Linked DNA regions of Homo sapiens: region 1 is linked to region 2. Evidence: fine-mapped expression QTL. A gene starts in region 2. The other region holds a variant in brackets. All regions are shown on one strand. Distances are between the middles of the regions. Region 1 overlaps HECTD2-AS1 (HECTD2 antisense RNA 1). Region 2 holds the start of PPP1R3C (protein phosphatase 1 regulatory subunit 3C).

Evidence for each region. PIP is the estimated chance that this variant, and not a neighbour inherited with it, causes the effect. A credible set is the group of variants that fine-mapping cannot tell apart.
Region 1: its variant is the best candidate, but not a certain one, in a credible set for the expression of PPP1R3C in lung (TOPMed, PIP 0.89).

What each region holds. Positions count from the first base shown.
Region 1 is chr10:91,606,786-91,611,060 of GRCh38, forward strand. The region is part of intron 1 of HECTD2-AS1 (HECTD2 antisense RNA 1); the gene reads right to left. Among named protein-coding and RNA genes, the nearest start is that of HECTD2-AS1, 2.5 kb to the right of the region's middle. The variant A/G (reference allele first, on the strand shown) is at 1,962.
Region 2 is chr10:91,631,398-91,635,672 of GRCh38, forward strand. It overlaps PPP1R3C (protein phosphatase 1 regulatory subunit 3C), which reads right to left and starts at 1,674. Exons shown (of 2, transcript NM_005398.7): 1 at 1,559-1,674. The coding sequence starts at 1,572. RefSeq lists enhancers at 1,305-1,806, 1,807-2,306 and a silencer at 1,641-1,780.

The DNA of each region.
Region 1 (4,275 bases), 25 kb before region 2:
TTGGTGGGACTGTAAACTAGTTCAACCATTGTGGAAGTCAGTGTGGCAATTCCTCAGGGATCTAGAACTAGAAATACCATTTGACCCAGCCATCCCATTACTGGGTATATACCCAAAGGACTATAAATCATGCTGCTATAAAGACACATGCACACCTATGTTTATTGCACCACTATTCACTATAGCAAAGACTTGGAACCAACCCAAATGTCCAACAATAATAGACTGGATTAAGAAAATGTGGCACATATACACCATGGAATACAATGCAGCCATAAAAAATGATGAGTTCATGTCCTTTGTAGGGACATGGATGAAATTGGAAATCATCATTCTCAGTAAACTATTGCAAGAACAAAAAACCAAACACCGCATATTCTCACTCATAGGTGGGAATTGAACAATGAGAACACATGGACACAGGAAGGGGAACATCACACTCTGGGGACTGTTGTGGGGTGGGGAGAGGGGGGAGGGATAGCATTAGGAGATATACCTAATGCTAAATGACGAGTTAATGGGTGCAGCACACCAGCATGGCACATGTATACATATGTAACTAACCTGCACATTGTGCACATGTACCCTAAAACTTAAAGTATAATAATAATAAAATAAAATAAAAAAGAGATAAGCACATCAAGATGGCAATAATAAATGCAAATTCTTCATCACCATTTTGACTGCTCAGAAATCATCACTGTTTCACAGGCTCTTTAAAAAAAGGTCAGTAAATACACGACTCCTGTCTAATGAAAAGAAAGTTAGCAATTGAAATTCTGAGAATACAATCTCCCACAAAAAATCAAAACCCACTCACTGAGCCAAACAAAAAGCATGCTCACTGACCTCCAATTCTTGGCCATCACTGCCAACTACAAAAGAAATAATTAGAAACAAACAGCCACAGACGCTATACTCTTGAGTTGAAGAGGAAACATCAAGAGCGCATTGCATCCAGTACTGTCATACAAGTCATTCACATAAGCAGAAAGCCACTTTCCAGTCCCTAGATAACTATGGCCAAGCTAGCCCAGCCAAGAACCTCTTCTCATTCTGTACTAGAAGGCCACAAAAGCAGCTCACTCAGAGGGGCTGGGCTGCCTTGCTCCTCTTAATCCAGTCAGGCTCACTGGCCATCCTCAGTCCAGGTTTTTATCTCTTCTCACTTGAGCTACTACAATGACTCCCCCAACTGACCTCTCTGTCTCCCTGAGTCATCCGGCCACTTTTTAATCCTCTGCTCACATTGCATTGCATCCAGAGAAAGACAAATTTCAGTCTGTCTCCCTTTTACCTAAATTTTAAAAAGACTACTTTCCTCAACCTCCATCATTTGGCTACATTCATCCTCATCACAGCCCCAGACTGTGGCCAACCACATTTCTCTCTGCTTTCCCACCACACCATAGTCATTGCCACCTCCTGCCTTTTTTCGTGCTCTGTGGCTTCCAGAAACACCGTCTTTTCCTCTGTGTCTGTCCAAACTCCACCCATCCTTCATATTGCCACTTAAGAAGCTGTTCCCAGACACCCTATCCCTTAAGGGTGCTCCTTTCATTCAACTCCTTACAGCTCCCAATATTTTAAGCACTCCTTTTATTTTCCACTGTCCTGGGCATAGGCCCTGGCCCTGGAGTAGAGCAGGAATCTGACCCAAAACTTCTTTGGGGTCTCCTACTTAATATCTATCCCTCTAAATCCTAATATGTTCTATGAACACAACTGCCCTTGTACATGATGACCCTAAGAACAGCAAAGTTTATATTTGGAGAAACTGCAGACCTCTCCCAGAATGACACATTGCCCTTCAAATCTCACGGAGAAAGAGCGTGTGGGCCAAGTGCCCAGATATCTAGCAAAGAAAGGCAAGTCAGCCTCCTCCCTTCCCCCAACCCGCCACTCTTGCCAGACAGCATTTAAAATGCACTTCAGCGCGTTCCTCTTTTATTTGGAAAGGA[A/G]ACAAGTCTTGACATTCTGTTTCTCCCATTTCATTAAGGACAGAGGTCATCCCAGGAAGGGGAAGGGTAGTTTCCAAAGAGAACTTGTGAGGGAGTGGAGGTGGGGCAGGGGACGCTCTCGTCCCTTCTCGTTAGCCCACTTTACCCTTTGAAGAGAACAAGCCCAGCTTTCACAGTGAATTATTTGCAGGGTGGCTTCTGCCAGGACTGGGCTCTCGCTAGCTGAGGCAATACCCGGAAGGATTACATGATAGCTCAAGGACAGACAAGGTGTCCAGAAGGAACTGGCCGGAGGAGGTGACACTGAGACAGCCTGGAGATAAGGGGGTAGAAAAGGGAGAAGGGAGGAGGTAGGGGGTGTGTGTTAAATAGAAACTCAGAAAAAGCTAAACCTGTACATTTCTCTCTCTCTCTCTCTCTCTCTGTCTCTCTGTCTCTCTCTCTCTCTCTCTCTCTCACACACACACACACACACACACACACACACACACAGGCATGCACAGAAACACATTCTTTGCTTTCCCTCCCCATCTGTAACTCCCCAAGGCATTTCTATAAATAAACGATAGGCCCCTGAGCCTGCAATAGGACCATTATTAACTCTTGCAGTGTTCTGGCTATAAGTGTGTGAACACTTTTCCTCACTTCATGGTTTGCAAAGCCTTTTCCCATATGTAATCTCCACCTGACTCCTACATCACACACTTGAAAAGTCCTTTAGCTTCTCCTCATCATTCCCATATATAGAATTGGGCACCCCACACCCACACTCTCAAAGTTCTTAGCCTTAAAGCTGTAAGTTTCAAGTTGGCTACTCCAAAAATTTCTTATGGTTTGAGCCACATTATCTATTTTCAAAATTATCAAATATTGTACATATTTATGGGGTACAATGTGATATTTCGATATATGTATACATTGTAGAATGATCAAATCAAGCTAATTTAACAGGCTCATCAACTCACATACTTACGATTTCTTTGTGATGAGAACATTTAAAATCTATCTTTTAGCAATTTTGAAATATGCAATATATTATTATTAACTATAGCCACCATGCTGTGCAACAGATCCCCAGAACTGACTCCTCCTGTCTAAAAATGAAACTTCGTACACCTTGACCAACATTTCCCCATTCCCTATCTGCCCCCACCTATCAGCCTCTTATAACTACCATTCTACTCTCTACTTCCATGAGTTTGAAGTTTTTAGATTTCACATTCTAAGTGAGATCACATAGGATCTATCTTTCTGTGCCTGGCTTATTTCACTTAGCATGATGTCCTCCAGGTTAATTCATGTTGTCATCACAAATAACAGAATTTTCTTCTATCTTAAGGATGAATAGTATTTTGTTGTGTATATATACTAAAATTTTTATCCATTCATCTATTGATGGTCACTTAGGTTATTTCCATATCTTGGGTATTGTGAATAATGCTGCAATTCACATGGGAGTGCAGATATCTCTTCAACGTATTGATTTCAATTCATTTGGATGTACACCCAGAAGTGGGATTGCTGGATCATATGGTAGTTCTATTTTCCATTTTTTCGGGAACCATCATACCGCTTTCCAAAATGGCTGTACTAATTTACATTCTCACCAACAGTGTACAAGAGTTCCCTTTAATCCAGAGGCCTTTACATGCATAATGTCACTTAAATTCCACAAGAATCCTGAAGGGTAAACATGATCAAGGCATGTCAGAGGAGGAAAGTGAAGCTCTAATGTTACGTTATGTGACAGGAGTGTAGAGTATGGGGTGCAGTGTCTTGAACCCAGGTCTGTATAGCTATAGTGCACGTGTTCTTCACTCCTGCCCTGAGGTCCTCTTCCTAAAAGTTCTTTATCATCTAAGATTCCAGAGCATCTACCGGGGGGTTTAGTCAGACATCTGGAATGCCAGGATTCATAACCAATTAAGCTTCCCCATGCCTATAGTGGTGTCTTTTACTTTTCACTTCAACATTTATTTTGCCAGACTCCATACTAGGTAAAGTGGGTAAAGCAGTCAATAAGACACACATGTCCTGCTCTCATAGAACTTAAAGTCTGATTAAAAGAGACGATTCATAAATGCACACACAATTAAATAAATGGACCAATTTGCCAAGAAGCTTCAAATCCACAGAGAATAAACACAATGTAGTTTTCATTTTTTTCCACTATCCTTGACTTGCTATGTCAAATCATCTCCTCCTCTTTCCCCCCCTTTAAAATATCTCACAGTTTCCATTACTTCCTGTCACTTTCAGCTATTCAGTTTAGTCAAGACCAGTTTAAACCTCCATCTCAGATCTGATCCCAAGC
Region 2 (4,275 bases):
GCTTCCCAGGTGATTCTAATGACCAGACAGGTTCAGGAGCCACAGTTCCAGACCCTCTGCTCCCTCTGGCTACGTTGGCTTATTTTGCTGCTAAATTGATTGACACTTCTCTGGTAAGGTAATTCACTTGAAAAAAAAAAAATAACATGCAACAGTTTTGAGAGTGAGAAGGCTAGAGAAGAAGTCAAAGAATCATCTTTGCACTTTGATTATCATGCTCTTATTTTTCACAAATAACCACTGAAATACAAGCCAACAATTCATATGCACTTAAAAACTATATAATTGATAATTCACCTAAAGAGATGCCCATGACAAGTCCACATTTAAGTGGAAAAACTGATTACCTGAAAGTTGGAGTGTTTTAAAATATACATTTTATATATACAAACTTATAAATATTGAAAAACTCTATAGGAAATACACCTTTCCTAATAATTTAATAATTATTATTTCTGGGTGATAGGATTATAGATTATCTATTTTCGTTTTTGTTCTTTTTTGGCATTTTCTAATAGACATTTATAAGTAGAAAGACAATAAAACCATTTAAAGTTTTAAACATGACTATGCTCAGCAATATTAAACCAAGAAGCATCTATAAAGAAGACTTTTCTCTGACCTTTAGCCCTCATCATATATTTCCAAGCTTATGGTATTAAGATTTTTTTCCCTATCTTAGCCTTACAAGTAAGAGGTGTGTGTATACTGTACACGACATTTCTCAGTCTGGCTTTAGTAACTCTCCTCACAGCAGCTCTAAACATGTATGCAAGTGGTCATTATCACAAAAGTGTGTAATAACACTCGCAGAATTTACTGTGTTAGCTCTGGGGTTTTTCTGGGAGATCTGCAAACTTAGAACAAACAAATGAAAGCTAAAGCTATATTTGTGGGTCTAATAATAGTTAATAGGCAGGATTTTTAGAGAAGTCTTCTGCTAAGCTATGTCTGGAGAAGCTATTTAAAGTAGTTTTATGGGAGGTTTTTTTTGGTTTTTTTGTTTTTTTTTTTTTACTTTTTGCATTTATAGAAAGACAGTTTTAGTTTGGGTGATTTCCTTGGAACTTTAAGTCCTGGACAAGAGTTAAAAGTAATCGTTTGCTCAAACTCTTGAGATTTTGCTATGGCAAACTGTGATAAGAAGGACGAATGAATGCAAACGTCGTCCTGTAATTTTTTTCCTCCAAGCTAAACCACCTAACCAGCAATGTCAGAGTGCTGTTCTCACCACTTCAGCTGCCCGAGTCTTTGGGACATTTGTGCAGGACCAAAAGAACAGCCGCATCCATGAGAAAATCCTAACTCAAGCTGATTCACGTTAAGATAATTTCTGCTTTAAGATGCTGATTACTAAAATAGGCTCTGCTTAAGAAATAGAGCCAAATTTCTACACCTCCAAGGCCTCTCGGTTGCCAGATTCAACTACGCAGTCAGTCCACTTGTCCTCCCCCTGGGGTGTCCATTTCCAGAGATGATAGAACTGAAACGCCCCCCAACTTCCCCACAGCTGCGCGTTCCCCTGTGTTCCTAGCGCGCAGAGTTGCAGCGAACCTACCTGGTGCAGCTCATTAGGCAGAGAGGCGGCGGACCCTAAAAGCCAGCACCCGCTGCCTGCACAAATTCGAACCACAGCTCCAGGCCTTGCCCCCGCGGCGGTCGCTGGGAGAGACTGAGGGCCCGGCGCCTAGAGGCCGCTTATCTGCTCCCAAGCACGTGACCCGATCCCTGGGACCAATCGCCGGGCCTCGAGCCCCAGGGCGCGACCAACCAGCGCCCAGCTGGGGCGCCAGCCCTCGCCCCGGCAACGTGATCGCCCCGGGGCGAGACGTGCAGAGAGCTATCTGGGCATCGCGGGGAGGTTCTGGGACTCCGCGGCCAGCTGGAACCAGCCGCGTAACGGGAACCCTGGGCTAGGGGCCGGGCAGGCACGTACCGCATGCAGCGGGCGCCGGCCAAGAGAGAGCGCAGCCAGCCTCGCCCAGGCGGGGCGCCAGTGCCTCAGGCTTGGGGCGGCTGTTACTTGGGAATAGCTTTGTGGGTCACTGCGGGTGAATCTGCACACAGAAGATGTGGCTCAAACCGAATGTGTATCGCATTTGAAATGTTTATATCGTTCATTACCCGGTGTATCCGCATTTCTCCCTCACCTTAGCCTGCGCGATCCCAAACTGGCTGCATGCTTTTCGATTAGTATGAGTTCACAGATGCACCACACAGTAGACAGCTGCCGGGAATTACCAACTTATCTAACAAATGTTGTTAGGAAAGCATACGAGCCCCATAAAACACCAAGGTGGCATTTAATTAAAAGACACTTCGTATTTCTGTCTATTCTTCAATTTTCTCCCCTGCGGGGAACACTAAAGCCGGAAGTGAAATGACCCTTTTCACACATACAGCCGGTCAAGAGGCAGCAGTCAACCCAAACCCCTTACTCAATTCTGACGTCCTTTGGCAGTGGTGTGGAAATCAAAATGTTAAAATAAAATTTAAAAAATCACGCCGTATGTTTCATGGGCCTTCTGAGCCACTCACTTTCGCTGAAGTTTCATTATTTTGATTAGTTTGAAGAATTTTTAGACCATCATTTACAACTGTAAAATTAAATGTCTAAGTCAAGTCTAAATTATTTTTATAAAACCCACATCCTAGTTTTGCTCCCCTAATTGAGCTATCCATTAGTCAATTAAAATATACAAAAATTCCTATGTCTTTTAAACAACTGTCAAACAGTGGAATTGTTAAAATTATTAGAGTGAAGAAAAAAATCACACTGAATATCACTGGGAAAGGGACTTCATGCCTGGGTTTTATTTTTGAAATGAAATATCTAACTAATGGCAGGTCTTCTAGCCCCTTTAGCTCAACCAAAACTAGCTGGAAGGTCTTTGGATTGACACTTACTAGCTACACGAATCTAGGCAAGTTCTAACCTCAGTTTCCTCATGTGTAAAACAGAGATAGTAACGTTCTGAAGATGAAGTAAGATGGTGCCAATGAACAGACTCAGCACGATGCCCAGTGCCTGTGTTCCACCCGGGCTAGTTCCCAAGTTTCTACTTGATCTCTCAGCTAGAGTTTTTACTCTATCACCTCAAGGCGCCTGGTGCCTGAGCTAAAATATTGAGAATAGCTGCTGCTTGTTGAGCCTTTACTCTGTGCCAAACACTATGTGCTATCAATTCAATCCTCACAACAACCCTATGTGATATGTCCAATTATTAATCCCATTTTAGAGAAAAGAAAACGGAGACACTGAATGGTCAGGAAATCTGCCCAGTGGATCACTTGAGGCCAGGAGTTCAAGACCAGCCTGGCCAACATGGTGAAACCCTATCTCTACTAAAAATACAAAAATTAGCCGGGCATGGTGGTGCACACCTGTACTCTCAGCTACTCTGGAGGCTGAGGCAGGAGAATCGCTTGAACCCGGGAGGCGGAGGTTGCAGTGAGCTGAGATTGCACCACTGCACTCCAGCCTGGGCAACAGAGCGAGACTCTATCTCGAAAACAAAAAACAAAAAAAAAACCTGCCCAGGTTCTCACAGGTAGAGCAGGGATTAGAGCCTGGCTGATACCAGAGCAATAACCGCTGCACCATATTGTCTTATTTTAATGACCCATCAATGGTTAGAATTATGGAGGTAGGAGGTGATAGGCATCAAACTCTTTATTTCACAGATGAGGAACTGAAAGCTTAGACAGGTCAAGCTGCTTGCCAGGGGCTGGCTAGGTCTGAGCCAAAACTAGAACCCTGGGTATTCTTTTCCTCTACCCATGATTATATGTTGAGCTAAATAGTAAATATTACCAGTTAAAACTATGGAGAAACATGAATAACAATTTATGGTGATCGCATTTTGAGGGAAAGGTATCCATGCATAGAAAACAGAATGTGCTCTACAGAAATGTGAACAGTTCATTTTGGAATGGTGAGATTATGAGTGATTAAAAATGTCTTCGTTGTTTTGCTGCTCTGTTGTTTTTCTTAATTTTTCTACAATGAACATACACGACCTAATTAAGAAATAATTTTTCAAGGGCGTTAAAACTCTGGGATTCAACTAACACATATAGCGTACTGCTAGGTGCCAAGAACCGTGGTGGAAATTTTCACATGCTTGTGCCATTTACTCACACCACCCTTTCAGCCTGTTCCATTCATACAGCTTTCTCTCCTGCCCCCTGGTGTTGACTAATGCCATAGAAGTCACTCTCCCTTTCAGCTCCTTCAAATGGAAGATTCAGGGAGACCATGCTTTCTCCTAAAAG